Linked DNA regions of Homo sapiens: all the other regions are reported to be linked to region 3. Evidence: microRNA targets listed by miRTarBase, many of them from high-throughput screens and not tested one by one. Region 3 holds a microRNA gene; each other region holds the end of a gene's coding sequence.

What was found. The annotated mature microRNA hsa-miR-4762-5p reads CCAAAUCUUGAUCAGAAGCCU and lies in region 3 at 3,197-3,217, opposite strand. An mRNA with a match to its seed (bases 2 to 7 or 8) in the 3' UTR can be bound and repressed. Matches are read on the target gene's strand: a 7mer-m8 pairs with bases 2 to 8, a 7mer-A1 pairs with bases 2 to 7 and ends in A, and an 8mer does both.
Region 1: miRTarBase lists CERKL as a target of hsa-miR-4762-5p. Seed matches in the 3' UTR shown: 7mer-A1 at 5,151-5,157.
Region 2: miRTarBase lists KLF10 as a target of hsa-miR-4762-5p. Seed matches in the 3' UTR shown: 8mer at 4,985-4,992.

Annotation. Positions count from the first base shown.
Region 1 is chr2:181,532,480-181,539,600 of GRCh38, forward strand. It overlaps CERKL (CERK like autophagy regulator), which reads right to left. Exons shown (of 13, transcript NM_201548.5): 12 at 6,613-6,785; 13 at 4,193-5,765. The coding sequence ends at 5,705. It overlaps ITGA4 (integrin subunit alpha 4), which reads left to right. Exons shown (of 28, transcript NM_000885.6): 26 at 1,793-1,891; 27 at 2,337-2,456; 28 at 2,953-6,461. The coding sequence ends at 3,048. Among named protein-coding and RNA genes, the nearest start is that of ITGA4, 79 kb to the left of the region's middle.
Region 2 is chr8:102,644,386-102,651,506 of GRCh38, forward strand. KLF10 (KLF transcription factor 10) reads right to left here. Exons shown (of 4, transcript NM_005655.4): 3 at 6,764-7,121; 4 at 4,399-6,006. The coding sequence ends at 5,747. Among named protein-coding and RNA genes, the nearest start is that of KLF10, 7.8 kb to the right of the region's middle.
Region 3 is chr22:45,756,628-45,763,748 of GRCh38, reverse strand. It overlaps MIR4762 (microRNA 4762), which reads right to left and starts at 3,225; the gene lies at 3,151-3,225. All of the region lies in intron 9 of ATXN10 (ataxin 10), which reads right to left. RefSeq lists a silencer at 646-940 and enhancers at 505-1,098, 5,084-6,082.

The DNA of each region.
Region 1 (7,121 bases), not on the chromosome of region 3:
AAGTTGGATTCCTAGGTATTTTATTCTGTTTGTAGTGAATGGGAATTCACTCATGATTTGGCTCTCTGCTTGTCTATTATTGTATACGAATGCTTGTGACTTTTGCACATTGATTTTTGTATCCTGAGACTTTGCTGAAGTTGCTTATAAGCTTAAGGAGTTTTGGGGCTGAGACCATGGAGTTTTCTAAATATACAATCATGTCACCTGCAAACAATTTGACTTCCTCTCTTCCTATTTGAATACCCTTTGTTGCTTTCTCTTGCCTGATTGCCCTGGCCAGAACTTCCAATACTGTGTTGAATAGGAGTGGTGAGAGAGGGCATCCTTGTCTTGTGACGGTTTTCAAAGGGAATGCTTCCAGTTTTTGCCCATTCAGTATGATATTGGCTATGGGTTTGTCATAAATAGCTCTTATTGAGATATGTTCCATCAACACCTAGTTTATTGAGAGTTTTTAGCATGAAGGGATGATGAATTTTATTGAAGCCCTTTTATTTTAAAAATATAGCTAAGAAGAAAAACTAAGGCTTTCATAAAATCAAATAAAATCAAAATTCAACAACAAAAACATATTTAAATTTTAAAAATAATGAAATATATCTTGGACTTTTTCCTACAAAGGAGCATGTATATTTATGAGGAGTAGTTTGAGATGAAACTAGTTTTATGTGGAGTTCTGTTTTTCAGCTTTCTCATCTGTTCAATATGGATAAATGAGATGATTTTTATAAGCACTTAGTTCATGGAACATAGGAAGCCAAAGGAAATGGCAGCTGTTATGTTCAAGTGGAATTCTTGAAATTGCCAAACAGTGCTTAAGAGGAAGATACACTAGACAGGCAAAGAAGAAATATCCATTTTAGTTTCAACTGTGCTAAAAGCAAAGTCATTGAACCATCAGCAAGTCATTTAACCTTTTGCAGTTTGCCTTATCTTTTTCTCTAGGTCTAGGTTTTCCATCAGTGGCCATAATTGGCATTTTGAACCAGATAATTTTGTTTTGGGGGGTTGTCCTGTGCATTGTAGGATATTTAGTATCATCCTCAGCCTCTATACGCTCACTGCTGGTAGTACCACCTCCCACGTTCTGACACTTGACAGTTTCTTTAGACATTCCTGACTGTCCCTTAGGTGATAAAACCCTCCCTGCTGAGAACCACTGCTCTAGATCTATAGGAAGCTTGTCATTTTTGGCTCTAAAATGTTAAATAACATTTACACAATAGTTTTAAAGGTCATATCCCTCTTTAAGAATCTGACTAAATATATTCTCATCTCCCTCAGCAAATGCACACATGAAAACATCTCCTAAAGATTCTTAGAATTTATAAAGCCCTTCTACAGATCCCCAAGCTTCATGGATTCTGCGTTATAAAATCCTTGCTTTAGATAGTAAAGTTCTGAGTTCATCCACTGATTTTATATTTGAATTCTATAATGTATTTAATTTAGAAAGAAATAAAAAGCCCAAATAAGATAGATTCAATATGCGGTGGTGGGGTGGAGAACAATGGTAAATGGTAACTTACCTCTTTCTGTAGTCTAATATTTAAATCAAGTTATTTGCAAGGTAGCTGTTTAATCAAAGGATTTCAATAAAATGATACTATATAAATTAATACCAAGACCACACTTTGGGAACCAAAGGAGGCACTGCAGTTAATTTTAAGTGGTGAAATAAATTGGGGAAGGTAAATTGTGAAAACCTCTAGCTAGAAGGTAAAGATCCTGATAAATTATGTCTTTATGAAATAAACCAGGCTATGGTGATCCTTCTTTTATTAAACAGGATGAGACTTCAGCACTCAAGTTTGAAATAAGAGCAACAGGTTTTCCAGAGCCAAATCCAAGAGTAATTGAACTAAACAAGGATGAGAATGTTGCGCATGTAAGATTACCCTCTTAACTGCTACATTAAAATTATAGGAAAACACATTTCAAGGGTGTCTATAATTACTTCCTTCTGAGTAACTGAGTTGGGAAAGTAGAGTGTGACCAGCTCATGGAGGGCCCCCAATACTTGGTTGAGAGTTGGCATTTTCCACAACTGGCAGGAGGGAACAATACAGCAGTTCTTTCAGAGAGGTGAATTGGGCAGCAGTGAGAATTGAATAGATTGGAGGAAAAGTCATGGATACAGCCCATTACACTCACTGTTTCTGCTAAACAGTTACCAGTGTTTCCTGCAATTATATTAGAACCAGCAAGAAAATGGGCTGGGCAGTTCTAAATACTACTGGGGATTATGGCAGGGCTTTAAAGGAAATATAAGCAACGTTTTAAACTGATTTTTTTTTTTGGTTTTTGAGTTTTATTTTTCTTAACTCACGTAGGTTCTACTGGAAGGACTACATCATCAAAGACCCAAACGTTATTTCACCATAGTGATTATTTCAAGTAGCTTGCTACTTGGACTTATTGTACTTCTATTGATCTCATATGTTATGTGGAAGGTAAGCATTTAACAATTACCAACATTAGTCTACTAAAAATGACATTTTCTCAAAGCCAATTTGACTTCCAAGTTATTAGATTTAAATATTTCACTATTTGAATGTTAACTTTTTATGTTGCTCAGTACTGATCTCACATTTCTCTTCAACACCAAAGTCTTTCTAGAAAAATATGCATTCTTAATTTGTTTTGAAAGACAGACGTTCCTTTTAAAAAACCATTTGGAAAAGATTGCAAATTACACGGAATGTCAATTTTGGAGAGAATGTGGTGTGTATCACTGAGAATTTCTGCATTAAAAACAAAAATGTTTCTTTAACCCAGTATGTCCCCACTAATTTTTACTGATTACCTCTGTTAAACCTTTATGACTGATGTTACAAGGGATGCAGTTTAAGAAATATTGGTGTTAACTGCTTAGATATTAGAAATGAGTATAGTAGATAAGAGAGTGTTCATAACTATACACTAGTGATTATGTTATGCTATTTTCAGGCTGGCTTCTTTAAAAGACAATACAAATCTATCCTACAAGAAGAAAACAGAAGAGACAGTTGGAGTTATATCAACAGTAAAAGCAATGATGATTAAGGACTTCTTTCAAATTGAGAGAATGGAAAACAGACTCAGGTTGTAGTAAAGAAATTTAAAAGACACTGTTTACAAGAAAAAATGAATTTTGTTTGGACTTCTTTTACTCATGATCTTGTGACATATTATGTCTTCATGCAAGGGGAAAATCTCAGCAATGATTACTCTTTGAGATAGAAGAACTGCAAAGGTAATAATACAGCCAAAGATAATCTCTCAGCTTTTAAATGGGTAGAGAAACACTAAAGCATTCAATTTATTCAAGAAAAGTAAGCCCTTGAAGATATCTTGAAATGAAAGTATAACTGAGTTAAATTATACTGGAGAAGTCTTAGACTTGAAATACTACTTACCATATGTGCTTGCCTCAGTAAAATGAACCCCACTGGGTGGGCAGAGGTTCATTTCAAATACATCTTTGATACTTGTTCAAAATATGTTCTTTAAAAATATAATTTTTTAGAGAGCTGTTCCCAAATTTTCTAACGAGTGGACCATTATCACTTTAAAGCCCTTTATTTATAATACATTTCCTACGGGCTGTGTTCCAACAACCATTTTTTTTCAGCAGACTATGAATATTATAGTATTATAGGCCAAACTGGCAAACTTCAGACTGAACATGTACACTGGTTTGAGCTTAGTGAAATTACTTCTGGATAATTATTTTTTTATAATTATGGATTTCACCATCTTTCTTTCTGTATATATACATGTGTTTTTATGTAGGTATATATTTACCATTCTTCCTATCTATTCTTCCTATAACACACCTTTATCAAGCATACCCAGGAGTAATCTTCAAATCTTTTGTTATATTCTGAAACAAAAGATTGTGAGTGTTGCACTTTACCTGATACACGCTGATTTAGAAAATACAGAAACCATACCTCACTAATAACTTTAAAATCAAAGCTGTGCAAAGACTAGGGGGCCTATACTTCATATGTATTATGTACTATGTAAAATATTGACTATCACACAACTATTTCCTTGGATGTAATTCTTTGTTACCCTTTACAAGTATAAGTGTTACCTTACATGGAAACGAAGAAACAAAATTCATAAATTTAAATTCATAAATTTAGCTGAAAGATACTGATTCAATTTGTATACAGTGAATATAAATGAGACGACAGCAAAATTTTCATGAAATGTAAAATATTTTTATAGTTTGTTCATACTATATGAGGTTCTATTTTAAATGACTTTCTGGATTTTAAAAAATTTCTTTAAATACAATCATTTTTGTAATATTTATTTTATGCTTATGATCTAGATAATTGCAGAATATCATTTTATCTGACTCTGCCTTCATAAGAGAGCTGTGGCCGAATTTTGAACATCTGTTATAGGGAGTGATCAAATTAGAAGGCAATGTGGAAAAACAATTCTGGGAAAGATTTCTTTATATGAAGTCCCTGCCACTAGCCAGCCATCCTAATTGATGAAAGTTATCTGTTCACAGGCCTGCAGTGATGGTGAGGAATGTTCTGAGATTTGCGAAGGCATTTGAGTAGTGAAATGTAAGCACAAAACCTCCTGAACCCAGAGTGTGTATACACAGGAATAAACTTTATGACATTTATGTATTTTTAAAAAACTTTGTATCGTTATAAAAAGGCTAGTCATTCTTTCAGGAGAACATCTAGGATCATAGATGAAAAATCAAGCCCCGATTTAGAACTGTCTTCTCCAGGATGGTCTCTAAGGAAATTTACATTTGGTTCTTTCCTACTCAGAACTACTCAGAAACAACTATATATTTCAGGTTATCTGAGCACAGTGAAAGCAGAGTACTATGGTTGTCCAACACAGGCCTCTCAGATACAAGGGGAACACAATTACATATTGGGCTAGATTTTGCCCAGTTCAAAATAGTATTTGTTATCAACTTACTTTGTTACTTGTATCATGAATTTTAAAACCCTACCACTTTAAGAAGACAGGGATGGGTTATTCTTTTTTGGCAGGTAGGCTATATAACTATGTGATTTTGAAATTTAACTGCTCTGGATTAGGGAGCAGTGAATCAAGGCAGACTTATGAAATCTGTATTATATTTGTAACAGAATATAGGAAATTTAACATAATTGATGAGCTCAAATCCTGAAAAATGAAAGAATCCAAATTATTTCAGAATTATCTAGGTTAAATATTGATGTATTATGATGGTTGCAAAGTTTTTTTGTGTGTCCAATAAACACATTGTAAAAAAAAGAATTTGAATTGATATCTAAAAACAGAATTTGAATTGATATTTCATCTTGACTTTTAAAGCCCTAGAGGCTAATTGTTAGTAACATCAATTTCTATTAGGATATCCGTTTGGCCACACAGCAGGAGGTTAGAGCAATGGAGCATTACTGAGTTCCTCCCCCTGTCAGATCAGCAGCAGCATTAGATTCTCATAGAAGTGCGAACCATATGGTGAACTGGTATGTGAGGGATCTAGAGTGCCATGTTCCTCAAGAGAATCTAATGCCTGATGATCTGAGGTGGAACAGTTCATCCTGAAACCATTCCCCCATCCACGGAAAAATTGTCTTCCATGAAACTGGTCCCAAAAAGGGTGGGGACCACAGGTTTAAAGCATGGCCACATTTCTTTATATTAAAATTCTAGTTTGTACATTTCTTTTAGAAACAATTACATGTTACTTTGGAATCATTTCTTCCATGCTTCCTCCATAAAGACTGATAAGTCTTGGATGCAATCTGTAAAGAAAATACATTATTTCATCAACTTATTTTGTTGTTTTTCACATACACCTAATAAGTATGGTACACAATGCCAATGCCAAATACAAATTGATAACAAACACAGCATTCCCAACAGAGCTGTAATCTAGAAAACTGAGAAGGTCTGATTGATAAATCATCAACAACAATAATTGCTCTAAAACCTCCTTAACTGACTTCCTTGATTGTCCAATGCTCTCCATTACCTCTGTAAAACAGTCAGTTATGCCTCTAGAACACCCATGTCTAGTGGGCACCCCTGCATGCTTCTTCTAACCACTGAGTGTCACAATGCCTACCAAGAATGCGTTTGCAGGTTCCTAAACCTGTTTATACCAGTTGCTATGTAAAATTGTTCCCAAGGGAAGTTGAATGCTCTGTAAAGGCCTAATAAAAGCAAATTACTGAACAAAACATGTTACAGTAATTATGAGTGAGAGGAAACTAAGATGGAAGGATAAAAATCTAACACTTTACTATTCAGATGGCTCCACTAAAAGATTTAAGATCTTGATCCATTTTTAAAAATCCAAAATGGAAGTTGTAGACATTATCTGTAGTTTATGCACAACAATAAATTAGAAAGCCAATGTAGACACGCATAACCAAAGAAAATGCCTTGGGTCTACATAACAGTTGAATAAATGTAAAGTTGCTTTTTATTTATTGAAATTTGTGCATGTCTCTTTATGCTTCCCTGATTTACTGATTTTTTAAAAACTAACCAACTGCCTGCTTTGATAGTTCAGAGAAGAGAGCTTTCGTTGTAATATTAGATTTATGTTTACTGGTTGACAATAAGCGGTGAAATAAATAGACTTACCTAATATGGACCTCTGATGCAACTTCCATTAAGTCACCATCTACATTCCAAGGGAAACAATTTTCTGAAGCAGTTTCATCCTCCTCCTCCTCTGGATTATATCCACCAGTATTATTCCTTGGATGAACTTTTACTTCCTCAACAGTGTAAGTCTCAACAAATGGAAAATTGAACTAAAAATAAATACAAATAATCATTATACTTGGTTTATCTCTAGCTACTAACGCGAATCAAAGTTCACTGAGCCCTCTCTCACAAGTAAATATCAGCATGTATGCTGACATTTTAATAGCTTTGAGACTATGAACAGGGATCTCCAACTTTTTTTGGAAGAAGGAATCTCTTATCCAAAGCCTTTTGGGTTCTTTTAGATCTAGCACCTAGAAATCTTGTTTTATGACAAATAGTACATATCTGTGAGAAGTTACATAAAATAGTGATACTGTAGATTTTTCAATTAAAGATAATCTTTAATACTGGCCTGTAGATACAGAAGACATATAATCCAT
Region 2 (7,121 bases), not on the chromosome of region 3:
GATACCTGACTGCCTTCGAGCTGGGACTTTATTTTTTTTCCAGCCTTTGTACTCAGATTGAAACATAGACTCTTCCTGGTTCTTGAACCTGCTGGCATTTGGACTAGAACTACACTTTTGGTTCTTCTGGGTCTCTAGCTGGCTGACTGCTGATCTTGGGACTTGTCAGTCTCCATAATTACATGACCTGATTCCTTTTATTCAGTTTCATATAAGGAATACATATGTATACATGTTCTGTTTGTTCCATTGGTTCTATTTTTCTGGGAGAACCTTAATATACCAGGTCTTTTAATTTGATCATTTTGATCTTTTGATCTTTCCCTGATACTGACACCTCCAGGGCACAGTTACCTGTGTAAAAAATTAGAGGCAGTGCTCTTCGAAAATCAACTTTATCATTTCTCAAGCTCTGCTTAAGTTGGTCAGCAAAATGCCAGGACTGGATTAAGGCATCAGAATAAAATTCCCTTAAGGTGTTGCCCAGAAGATCTCATCTAGTTCCAGGGCTCTGCTGATGTCCAGTGCCCTTGATGGAAGTCTCCATTTCTGTCTCTGCCTTATTCTGAAAGTCTTCTAAAGAGAAAGGGTAGGGTAAGAGCCAAGGCAACACTTTTCAGCCCTTCCAGGCTGAAGCATTAGACTCACACGAAGGGACTTAGTGAGCCTAGTGTATGTGTCTTGATCAGATTTCTTCCCTGCCCCCTTAAAAATGCAATGAAGAGAATTCAAATGCCATGAGACTCTTTAAGAGTCTGGAAGGTGGAATAAATGGTCCTTCCAGCACTAGCAAAGAATAATGGGAACAAGAAAAAGGCAATCTTCAGCTTCTCGTCTCCTTTTTCTATATCCTGCATGTAACAACTTCTTAGTTGTTCTCCCTCCCTAAAATTGCACAGGCCTCTTCACGGCTCAACTTTCAGTTTGGCAAAATTGTTAAGCCTGTGCTACGTGTCAGGGACTGTGCTAGATGCTGGTGATGTAGCAGTGAGCTAGACCCACAGGGTGCTTTTCCTCATGAAGTTTTACAGTCAGGGGAAAAAAGACATGAAGTAAAGGGTAATAATGATTATTATGACAGTGGAAATGTCAAGGTAAAAGGGCAGGGAAGGCCGGGTGCGTGGCTCATGCCTGTAATCCCAACACTTTAGGAGGCCAAGGTGGGTGGATCGCCTAAGGTCAGGAGTTCAAGACCAGCCTGGTCAACATGATGAAACCCCCTCTCTACTAAAAATACAAAAATAAGCCAGGTGTGGTGGTGGGCACCTGTAATCCCAGCTACTCGGGAGGCTGAGGCGGGAGAATCACTTGAACCTGGGAGGCAGAGGTTGCAGTGAGCCGAGATCACACCATTGCACTCCAGGCTGGGCAACAGTGAGACTATGTCTTGGGGGGGAAAAAAAGGGTTGGGGGGCAGGGAAAACATTCCCAGCAGAAGACATAGCACATAGGAAGGCTCAGAGCTTGGACACAATGTAGAGTACAAGATGGAAAGTGGTGTGGTGGGAGGTTGGTAGAAGCCTAAACGTGCACGGTCTTCTAGACCTGCTCGGTCCACTGCAGCAGCCACCTGTGGCTACAGAGCACTTGGAATGAGGCTAGTCCCTACTGAGACTAGACTAGATTTCAAAGATTACCACGAACATTAAATTAAATGTTTTTTAAATACAAATTTTAAATATAAACTTTTTTTTTTACTTTTTTGATGCGGCTACTAGAAAATTTCAAATTACATATGGCTCACATTATATTTCTATTAGACAGTACTGTTCTAGACCATGTTATAAAACCTAGACTTGACTCTGAGAGCATTGGGAGATTTCTGAAGTGTTTTAAACAGAAAAGTGACATTATCAGGTTTGCATTTTCAAAAGACTCTGTTGTGAGGAGACTGGATAGTAAGAAGACAGGACAGAGGCAGGGAGGCCAGTTAGGGGTGGCTGCACTGGCTTGAGTGAGAGATGCTGGATTAGACAGGGTGGCAGCAACGCAGGTAGAAAACACTTTAAAAAAGTAGTTACTAATACCAAACAGCTCTCGTTCCAGTGAGAAATGATAGGTTGAACCATATAAAATTTTCATCTTCATTTATTAAAAGTGGTTGAATACTGAAAGAGCTAACAAGGGCCAAAGGTGGGACAAATGAGTCACAAAATAATTAAGTATAGTGTTACAACTCAAAGAATGAGATAAATATTCAAGTCCATGCTGACATTTAAAAAAACTGAATAAATGGAGAAGAAACAACTCTTACAGAATTCCAACTTAATAAATAATGAGGAAATTAGCATATCACAGTAATAATTGCCCCAGGCAACATTTCCATAAGGACACTAAAATAAATGGGGAAAAGTGTAAGCAGAAACAGGTTATTTGCATAATCTTAAAGTATGTCCCTCTACATATTTAATAATTATAAGTAGAAAAATGGTAAATTTACAGTGGAAAATTCCAACAGATATCACCCTAGCCAAAGTGAGTGAGGTTAGCAGCATCAGGAGTGCATATGGACACCATGTTTTCGTAGGTAAGATGTGCTGAGAAGGGTATTATCACTCTGGGGCATCTTTCCCACATACCCCATAGCCTCAATCTAATCATGAATAAACATCAGACAAACCCACATTAAGGGACATTCTGCAAAATAACTGACAAGTAATGTTCAAATGACAGGACTGAGGAACTACTACAGATTGGAGGAGGCTGCAGAGACATGACAACTAAATGCAATTTGAGATCCTGGATTAGGTCCTGTAATAGGAAAAAGTAGAAAAGCTAGTAAAAAATTAAGCTAGTAAAAAGGTGTTTCTGCTTCAACTTTTCTCCATTTTAGTATCCTTATGAAAACTTAATAGTATTGTACCAAGTTTAACTTATTAATTTTGGGCGCCTGTAATCCCAGCTACTTGGGAAGGCTGAGGCAGGAGAATCACTTGAACCCAGGAGGCAGAGTTTGCAGAGAGCTGAGATCATGCCACTGCACTCCAGCCTGGGCAACAGAGTGAGACTCTGTCTAAAAAAAAAAAAATTAGATCCTGCTTCAACGTTCAACTCAAAAACAGTAACTCTATTTACAAGATTCCTAAGGAAAGATCTCAGATACCAACTAGGACTGCAAAGAATACGGCCAACGGGTGGCATAGTTTCATGGGCCACATCATTACAAGGGACTGAGCATTGGGGGAGGCAGAGAATATTTCAGTCATCTTCCTCCATTCCCACTTCTGGACACCTGCCACCATGAAAAGCTCTAAAGCAAGAGGATGGTCCAGGTGCCCAACACCAAAGCTACACCAGAGGCCAGAATGGCAAAGCCTCTCTCCAGCAGCTATGTCATACTCATGTGGTATTAAGTTTCCAAGAAAAGTAGCAACAGGTGTACAGATGTCCTGAGAAACCTGTCCTACAACTGCTGCCAAGTGAGTACACGGTCCCTTACCATGGTGTTTATTCAACAATGAGGCAGACTCTAGGTCACTGGTTAAGTTGGGCATTGTGGAAGATGTTCTCCTGACCACAAGGGGATTTCAGTGCAAGCTAAAATAGTAATCTACAAAATTATACTCTATACACCAAGTAGCATTTACAGCCCTTAGTTCCTTCCACTGATGAGTGACTAACAAGTGTTTCTCTTCAGAGGTGGATTACTTTTCATGAGGCTTAAGTACCAATATGTTTATTGCATTTAAGGTATCACTTAATTGTCTAACTTCTAGAGGTAAGCAATTTACTCGCTATTTAATAAGTCAGCCTTCTTTTCATTTGCCACGGCAGTTTCATTGCTTGTAATTATTCACTGTGGTGTTCCCTTTAACTTGAATACTACTTAACAAGATTTCGTTAATATCAAAATATTGTTAAATATCAAAATATTCAAGAATGCTTAAAAATTAGCACTTTGGGAGGCCAAGATGGGCGGATCACTTGAGGTCAGGAGTTTGAGACCAGCCTGACCAACACGGCGAAACCCCGTCTCTACTAATATAAAAATTAGCCGGGCATGGTGGTGCACACCTGTAATCCCAGCTACTCTGGAGGCTGAGGTAGGAGAATCACTTGAATCTGGGAGGTGGAGGTTGTAGTGAGCTGAGATCATGCCACTGCACTCCAGCCTGGGTGACAGAGTGAAACTGTGTCTTGAAAAATAAAAAACAATGTTTAAAAATTAAATGTGTTTTCTTAGAACTGGCTGGTTCACATATTACCTCACCAAATAGATATTTGGCCTCACTTTGTATACTCTCTAAATGGATTCATGTTAAAGACATACTCCTACAGTTCTAAATTTGAATGAGACCCTTAGAGAAATTCAGACACTAAGTCCTTGGATAATATAAGTGATCAATGTCAAGGTGAGAGTTGAGAATGGTTTTTAAGAAATGCAATGACCATTCCATATACCAAAGGGAATTCTTTATTGTAAACAAGATATAAAGTACAACAAAAGAAATATTGTGCAAATTGTAAGTCACAAGGATTTTTTTTAATTAAAACTTTTGTTTTCCAAGGGTCCAAGTTTTGATGTCAGAAATCTACACCCAATATACAAAAACAATGTTAAATGGGAAGATATAGTGACATTTTTCACTATATATTTTAAGCAATGTACTTTTGTTTTGCCACTGTGTATATCATCCACTATATAACAGAATAAAAGAGAAATACTGTTAACAAAAGTGAATGTTCTAATAATTTTTCTACCCAACTACCTCCACATCCCCAAAAAACGCCTATAAATTAACAGGACAACATCAACATTTGTCCACCTGTGAATAATGGTCACTAATTTTCTAATTCAATAAAGCACACATTATATCCTCATAACATAAAGGTACTTTACTGATGACATAAGCCATCTTTTTCAAGAAGTTATCTAAGATTCTTAATATCCCTTCTTTACAATATATATTTCATCTTCAGTTTTTTTTCTAAACAAAGTGCAGTGTATCTTAGAGTCTACAGAAAACACATTGGTATACAATTTTCAAATCTACACAAGAAACTGCAGGCAAACTAAAGTTCAAAGCATAATGAAATGCCTAGATACAGTCATTTGTTAAACTTTCAAAACAAAAATGCAAAAACAAATTGTAGCTATGCTTCAAAGCAATTAAATTAAGGAGGATTCCAATTCTTTGGGCCCTCTTAGCAATATACAGTCGTTCAATTCCAAATATTCACAATAGTGTAAAAATGATAGTTCTAGATATATTTAATCACTACATCCACGATGTTGACTGGAAAGACTAGGAATAATAAAGAAGATAACTCTAGAAAAAGATGACAATATTTGTAATAATACAAACTCATTTTACATCTCCATGTCTGTACCGTAATGTTTATTTCCTTCCAGCCTCCATATTCTTGAAACCAGTGCTTTAGAAGAATCACATTGAAAAGTTGGTCTCAAGTATAAACAGCAAAAGTAAAGTAACAAATATGCACACAGATTCAAAATCTGTGCTACCTGTGTTGACCTCATCTGAAACCTTCAAAAAATATTCAAAGGAATAAAAGCTTTCTCATCTCTCTTATGTGATAAGAAATGAAACCTGCCTTTCTGTGACCTGCCTGTGGCCGAAGCCCTTTTAGTCACCTAACCCAGGCGGGGCCTTCGTGCCAGGCTGTGGGGCTTCTGCTTTAAGCCCACGTTGTGGGGCCACAGACTTGCAGTGGAAGCATTTTTACATCACCACTGGCTCCCGCTGAGACCAAAGTTAGTTCTGACTCTTCACTTTCCGGTCTGTCACTGTGTGGGAGCAGGGGTTGGAGGTAGAGCAATGTCATTTAGCTTGCTCACTTCCATCTGCCAGTTTGGTAGCTTCTTGGCTGATAGATGGCGCCGGGCATGCTTGGTCAAATGGTCACTCCTCATGAACCGCCGGTCACACATGGGGCACGCAAATTTCTTCTCACCCGTGTGGGTTCGCCTGTGTCTGGACAGTTCATCAGAACGGGCAAACCTCCTTTCACAACCTTTCCAGCTACAGCTGAAAGGCTTTTCTCCTAAAACAAAGACATACAAATCATTATTATGCATAAGATTGCCGTAAATTATATGTTCAATTCTGTCTAAAAGTATATGAGAAGATACATTTTAAATAATAAAAGCTAATAAATCAAACTGTCAAATGAATATGAGATATGTATTGCTCCAATTTCAACTTGTCACTTGATCACATTTACAAAACTCTTCCCCACATGAAATAAGGCAGCCGGGTGGAGTAGTAGGCACCTGTAGTCCCAACTACTCAGAAGGCTGGGGCAGGAGGATAGCTTGAGCCCAGAAGTTTGAGACCAGTTTGGGCAACAGAGCAGTTTTTTTTCATCCCTTAAAAAAAGCCAAAAATGAAAAGACTTCCTGACTTTAACTATGATTCAAAGGCTTTAAAGATACCTTATTAAAGTAACTACTCAGACATCTACAGAATCATCATTTGAGAGACTGAAACAAAAGCACATCAATAAAGTATTTACATACTTATTTTTAAATTATTTGTAGAGATGAGGTCTCAGTATGTTGCACAGGCTGGTTTTGAACTCCTATGCTCAAACAATCCTCCCACCTTGGTCTCCTAAAGTGCAAGGATTATGGCACTCGTGAGCGGCCTCCAATACAGCCTTTTGGAGGACCTTGCACTGGTAAATACCATCCTCTAAACTAGCTAAAGGCAAGTTATTCCTTATCATCCTGGGTTTAAATGTGTGATCACAGCCAAAATCTCTTCATTTAAACACTAAAGATATAAGAAGTGGCTGGTACCTGTGTGCGTCCTCGTGTGGGCCTTCAGATGGGAACTTTTAAAGTATGTCTTGCCACATCCTGGGTGGCTACAGATGTGACTCCTTATCCTTGATGAATCAATCTGAGGAGTGACTTTTGCTGCTGAAGGGGAAAACCCAGGAGCAGGGGCAATGGGAGAGAGTCTGGTGCCATTCGGGCTCACCACCGGAGGCTTTGAACTCTGCACAACGGGCTGGGGTACCACAAACATGACAGCGCCTTTGGGGACTTGTGTGCCCATGAACACAACAGGGGGGCAAACGGCTGGTGGCTGGCTGGGAGGAGTGCTGGGAACGACTGTTGTCACAACAGGGTTGTTGGCAGGAAGGGGAACCAT
Region 3 (7,121 bases):
AGGGTTGCGAAGAGCAGAGCAGACAAAACCAACCACAAATGTGCCTGTAAATGCATGCATATGAAGACAGTCTGACCTGTGGCAGTGAAGGAACAGAGAAAAAGGCAAGAGCCCAACCTGGGGAAAAGGAAGGGCCCAAAGAGCAGGGACAGAGAGGTGGGGGGCGTGGTGGGGTCCGACTTTTAACAGGTAGGGGGCAGGAAAGACCTGTGAGGAGATGAGCAAACACCTGAGGGTGCAGCAGCCACACACTCTGCAGACCTGGGGCTGGGGAGAGGAGCGCAAGCACAGAGGCTCAGGCAAGGAGCCGCCTGTCTCCTGGCAAAGCGAGCGAGGGGCCAAGTCCAAAGGCCTCAGCTTGAACTCAAAGGCCTTTCGTAACCTTGACGAAACCTTCACTCCCACTCAGCCTCATCTCTGAGGAGCCCTCCAAGTCTCTCCAGCCAGTTCCCTCGTTCCTTCCTTCTCTGCCTTGAACACGCCAGGCCCACCTCACCACCTCACTCTCTCCAGCTCTCCAGATTCTCCCACCACCTCCCTGCCCCCAGAACACTGCCCGGCAGCCCTCCCCAACTGAGAGTCACCAGGGTGAGGGAGAGGGGGTAGGAAGGCCACAGAAACATCATTTCCTAGGCCTCCTTCCAGATGAAAATGCTGTAGCCACAGCCTCCTACTCCAGGAAAAGGGACCACGCAGTTCTTTGCGCAGGAGAGGCCATGGCTTTACAAAGCGCTTCTTAAATGCTTCTGTGCATTCCAATCCCCTGAGGATGGTCTGATTCCGGATGCTGGGGTAGAGCCTGAGACTCTGCATCTCAGACAAGCCCCTAGGTGATGCCTCTGCAGTCCACAGTCTGGGCTGTGAGGGACTACAACAGGGATGGAGACAGACCCAAGGGAAGCCACGCAATTACTCTCACTTGGAATTTGGAGCCAAAACACAGGGGGAAGGCATCTGTCAGTGGGGGCTCCACAGCAGGGAGGGGAGGATGTGGAGAGATGGCTGGGGCCATGTGAGGTCACCAGCCTGGAGACAGGAGTAAGAGTGAGGTGGCCTCTGGGGGACCAGGAGGCAGTCCCTGAGGCCTGGAAGCCCCTTGGTTCATGCTCTGGGAGTCTGTGCTCTCCCTGTGGCCTAAACACATACACTCTTGCCCAGCTTCCCTTCAGCCAGCTGGAGAGCGAGGAGGAAGCACCCTGGCCAGACAGGAGCATGCCTGGGAGCCTCCCAGGAAGACACAACAGGTGTGCAGACACAGGTTCGGCTAGGGTGGAGCCCACCAACACTCAGCCAGAACATGCACCGTGGAAAGAATCCTGCTGCTGTGGTCTGCTTCTGACTGAAATCAACTGCTTTATCTGCTATCTATCATAACAAAGATAAATAAAAAATGAGATGTAGTCATGAAGCGGGAGTGCCTACCCTGGGTCAGGCCCTCTGTCAAGCAATGCAAAGACAGAGAAAAATAAGCCGAGGTCCCTGCGCCTCCAGAAAGAAACGCACGCTGGTCAGGGGAAACAGACAAAGGGCAAATAAATAGAAACACAGTCTCGGAAACGCACAGGGGACAGAGACTGACTTCCTTTCTACCTGTAATGTCAAGCTTTTCACTTTTTCTGCAATTGTTACAAGTAAAATACTATCTTTTATGAGTAACTTTTGTTGGTTGGCTCACTTAAACCATAAAGTGAAGTAAAAACATATGACTAAATAGGAAGTTTTTAAAAATCAGAAAACCTGGGAGTCAGAAGGCTCTTAAAGGCGAATATGGTCCATTCACCTGCTTCAGTTAAGACCACAACTACTTCATCCCAGTCAGATGTGTTTTTTTTAAAAGCCAGATTATACTTTAATCTATTTAAGTATAGTTTCAGCCCAACTGCACTGAAATCAACCTTTTCTGTTTTAGCCAACATTTTAAAAAATCTAACACAATGGTCTAATTTTTTAAAATTTTAATTAAAGGCCCATTTAGAAAAGTAACCAACTTTTGATATTCCCTGAGGTGGAACTTAAAACAGATTTTAATGTAACTGCTAACAAGGACTAAGCAAAAACTGGGAAGAAGTGTATGATAAAAAAATAGATAAATAAAGAGCAAAGGCTTGCATAAAATGTTCCAGTCACTGGATTATAATGCTTCGTTACATTTGATTTTTACCTTTTCGAGATTATACCTATGATACTGTATTACAATTTAACCAGTTATCACCTAGTCTTCCATAAAGGTTGGTGAGAAATGAAAATTAAGTAAACACAGTATTACATAAGTGCTTAGAAAAGTTTAACTGTGAAAACAATGAACAGATTTAAAAATATTCATTTGTTCATCCCTAAAAGTTTACAGAGCACTCACTGTGGGCCCGGAACTGTGCCAGGGGCCCTGGAGAGAATGAGGAGCAAACAGACATGGAGCTTACATGCTAGGCTTGTAGTGTTTTAGATGGTAATACAGTCTCTGCTCAAAATCACCAATATAAAAACATTAAAGTCCCAGCTACTTGGGAGGCTGAGGCTGGGGAATCGCCTGAACCTGGGAGGTGGAGGTTGCAGTGAGCCGAAATCACGCCACTGCATTCCAACCTGGCGACAGAGCAAGACTCCGTCTCAAAAAAATAAAATAAAATAAAATACTGAGGTCACCCTTGAAAACATAAGCCAACAATGAAAATTCAACTTCTTTCCCAAAAGGAAAACAACAATAATGAAACAGAATAAGCTACCTGAAAGAAAGCTTCCTCTTTCATTACTCTTTATCAAATTACTGTCTCTCACATATGTCCTTTTATTTCCAGGCTTATCACCACCCTCCAACCAGGCCTCCACTGCTGTAGCAACCTTTTAACTGGCTCAGGAATCCACTCCGCACACTGGGGCTCTTATCAGTGAGGATGGGCTGGTTCGTGCTGCAGTAACAAACAATCCACAAAAATCTAAGAGGCTTAAAATGAAAGTTTCTTTCTTTCTCATGCCACTTAACAGCTGTGTGGCCTTGGGTACACTACTGAACCATTCTGGCCCTCAGTCTCCTCATCTGCAACATGGGAGAGGTATCATCATTAAATGAGGTAAGAGACGAATACTCAGAACTGTGCCTAGGACACAGGACACACTCAATAAGCAACTACTATTGCTGTAATCGTTGTTATTCTTGACACCACAAATCTTGATCAGAAGCCTTCCTAGCTTCTGATCAAGGCTTCTGATCAAGATTTGGGGTATCAGAAATAATGGGATATGACTACACCCTATCATCTAGCCATCTGTCTCCCACAGTAGATCATGAGCTACTTGAGAACAAGGACTGCCTCTGACTCCACTGTTGAACTGCAGAGGTTCACAGAAAGTGGCACATGGTAAGCACTCAGAAAGTGCTTGCTGCACTAAAGGGAACGATGTTGAATAATAATCACTGGTACGTGAATAAACCCCACATGTGCTGGACATACACAGAGTCCCATATTAATGAGGGCACACTCTCAGATGCATCTGGCCCGCAGGAAACCTGACTAAAAGCACATGATGAAGATAGGGAATGTCATCTGTAGGTGGGAAAGATGGCTTTACAGGCCCAGAACCAAGCCACAGTTGAGCTAGGCCACCAGTACATGGGCTACTGCTCCCAGGGAAGTCTAAGCAAACGAAGGAGGATGTTCCACGTTGTGGAATTAGCACAAATCTATCTCCACGTGGGGAAAGAATGTAATTCAAGATTCCCCCTGTTCCTCCTTCCTTTCTTAGGGCCATCATTCCCCTGCCCCATGCTCTCCTGGCACACTGGCACACAACAGCCAGCATGGAAAAAACTTTCTGAGGGGATAGAGGTGCTCTCTGTACCTTGACTGGGGTGATAATTACACAGGTGCAGACATCTGTCAAAACTTATCAGCCATTCATTAAAAATCTGTGTTTAGCTGTATGTAAATTAGAAAGAGAGAGAAGCAAGCGATGGACAGTGCTGACTGTTATATGGTCCCTTAGCTCATGCCGGCAGCTGAGGTGTGACCCCATCCCACCCCATCCCCTACAAAACTAGAGCTTTATGAAGGGCAGGGTGGCTGGGAGGGAGGAGCTGATGCAGCTTGGTAAACTGGCCTCTGGAGGACATTATGAAACCTTGCTCATCCTCGTGCAGCCTCAGCTCCCTCAGGAGGCCTTTCCTCCTGCTTCATGGCACAAGAAGAGTACGGAACCCTCACCCTGATCAGACTGCTCTAGAATCTTTTTTGTTTGTTTGTTTGACACGGAGTCTTGCTCTGCCCAGGCTGGAGTGCAGTGATGCTATCTCGGCTCACTGCAACCTCTGCCTCCCGAGTTCAGGTGATTCTCCCGCCTCAGCCTCCCGAGTAGCTGGGATTACAGGCATGCGCCACCACGCCCGGCTACTTTTTGTATTTTTAGTAGAGACAGGGTTTCACCATGTTAGCCAGGCTGGTCTTGAACTCCTGACCTCAGGTGATCCGCCCACCTCAGCCTCCCAAAGTGTTGGGATTACAGGTGTGAACCACCATGCCCGGACTCTAGAATCTTTTACTATTTATCATTGTCCCTCTAAGCTTCAAGTTACTTGAGGGTGAGGACCTTTTCTTCCCCTTCCTTCTCTCCAGCACCTCGCATAATGCTTGGCACACAGTGTGCTCTTAATCAATATTTGTTTCTCTGGCAGTAAGTTTCTAAAGTTATCTTTAAAGATATGAGATATACTGCCTTTAAATAAGAATGGTACTTCTAAGTAAGAATAATGTCTAAATTACATTAAATCTTGTTAACTCTAAAGATTTAAATCTCTTCTTTTTTGGAGAGGTATGACTCCTACTGTCATGATTTATGACTCCATAAAAGCCATGTATTTACTGGGCAGAATAAACGGTAAGCTTGGTATGCATAACACAGCACTAGAATTCTTGCTATAAAGATTACTGATGCCTCAGGCTGTTATAAACGAGATGTCACATGAAGCTATGCATCAAGAGCTTGCCCTGAAGACAAAAACATCGCATACTGCTCTATCAAGTCCACGTTCAGTTACAGCTCCTGGCGCTCCGCAGTGGCTATGTGTATGCACATGTGCGTGTGCAAACACATGGCCAGTGTGTTTAAATGAACACCTGGCAACCCAAAAACAACATCTTAAAGATAGCTGTCAGAGCATGAAACATTGCACTAACCAGGAACTTCCATGGTTGTGGATTAGCAGAATAACACATCAAAGCAACCTTGAATTACGTGTGATATGCCTTAGGAAACTTCAGTTTCTGATGACCAATAATTTGAATCTAATCTTTTGAACCAAAAAGAATTATGTATTTTGTTCCAAGCACAAAGTCAGTGGCTATAGCTCAAGCCATGAATATGTAATTTCCTAAAAGTAAAACTGGTTTTTCTGAGTCTTCATATGTATTCTAAATGGCTAGAGAAGCCTGCAGTTAACAATGGTGGTGCTCCATGGAGGCACTGGTGGTCTGTCAAGTACCTATGCTTTCCACACGCTGGCTCAGCTAACTCCAAACAACCCTGCAGGGAGACTGTGGCCCTGCTCCACAGCCGAGGGACACGAGCAGTGTGGACGACTCTGAGCCAAACGTCAGGCGGGAGCTGCGGAAGCTCAGGACAACAGGGGCTGGCAGGGGCAGGGTGTGGAGGCAGCACCAGGTGTCCCCTACCCACTGCACGGGGCTTCCTGACGCCACTGTTCTGGTAACGAATAGTTGCATCCGTCTCTGCCATATACTTTGGAAGCATCAAATTTAGTTTGAATTTGTGTGTCATCACAAAAGCTCAACTTTTTTTCTTCTTTTACAAATTTCAAAAGAAGTAAATAGTATCCACAGCAGAGGTCCAATAAATGCCAATTTTATAAATACAGGCTCAACGAATATGACTGGAGAAAGTGTGCCAGAGTTTATTTCTCTAATAAGTCCAAGTTGAATCATGTAAGAAAAGTACTAATAGAGAATAATTCTTAAAAGAGAATCAAACATGAATGAATATAACTCTAATCACATTTTTAATAAATATAATTTCAAAACAATATGACTTATAAGGTCAGCATATGAAAAATGTATTGAATCCTATGTGTATGTAAAAAAAATTTTATCCCATCCATATTTACTAATACTGTACTAATGTTTTTTTTTTTCTAAAATGGCTAGAAATGATTTTTCAAGATTAAGAACAAATCTATCTTAGAGAATACAGAGAAAGAACCCATTTCTTTCTCCCTCCAAAGTACTGAATGAAACATCCACACCTCCCTTTGGAACATTCTCCAGAGGCCTTGAACGGGGAGCAGCGAAATCCTGAATCCCAGCCTGGGCTCCCACCTCGGAGCCTCAGGCATTTTCTGTCCCTGCTCCCAGCCAGCAGGCGCTGCTGGGCCACACTGTTAGAATCAGCTGGTATTGCTCCAGTTACACTGAAGCTCTGAGGCATTTTTGTTTTGTGTGGGGCTAGGGGAGGGAGGAGGGTGTAGCTGAAAGTCGCCAGGGTTGGAATTCCAACAGGCAAAGGACACGCCCTCTCTTCGAACTGCTCCAAGGCCGCCAGTCGGATTTTTCCTGTCAACACCCCCGCCACCCACCTCCCCATCAGACTCCCCAGTCGTCCGCCTCCACAGCCCCAGCCCCAGGCAGTCCGTCCAGAGCTGCAGGTGCAGACCAAAGCCATTCCTCCGCAAATAGGAGGAGGGCACAGCCACTTGGGAAAGCATCTGGAACCGTGTCTCTCGTCTGGTTCTTCTCCACTCCTTCCCTCTTCCTCAGTTTCCACGTGCTGATGGAGTGGGATTCACACGATGAGAAATCAACTCCAACTCCCTCTCTTGCCCCCAACTCTGCCATGGAAATGATTTCATTTAAAGGTTCCTCTTGGATTTTTCCAGTGGATATATTCAATATTATCACTAAAACATGTCAAATAAATACCAATGAATCATTCCCAGAAAGTAGTCTCACATTAAACCAATTATTCAATGTCTGAGAGTAATATGAGCTAAGTGCAGCTTGTAGAAGGATTTGTAACATAAGATGTACAATAATACAAAAAGTTCAACCTGAAAAGGACAATCACAACCCCCATCCCCACCCCACAGTAAACTCTGAAGGGCAGTTTCAGCTGGACTG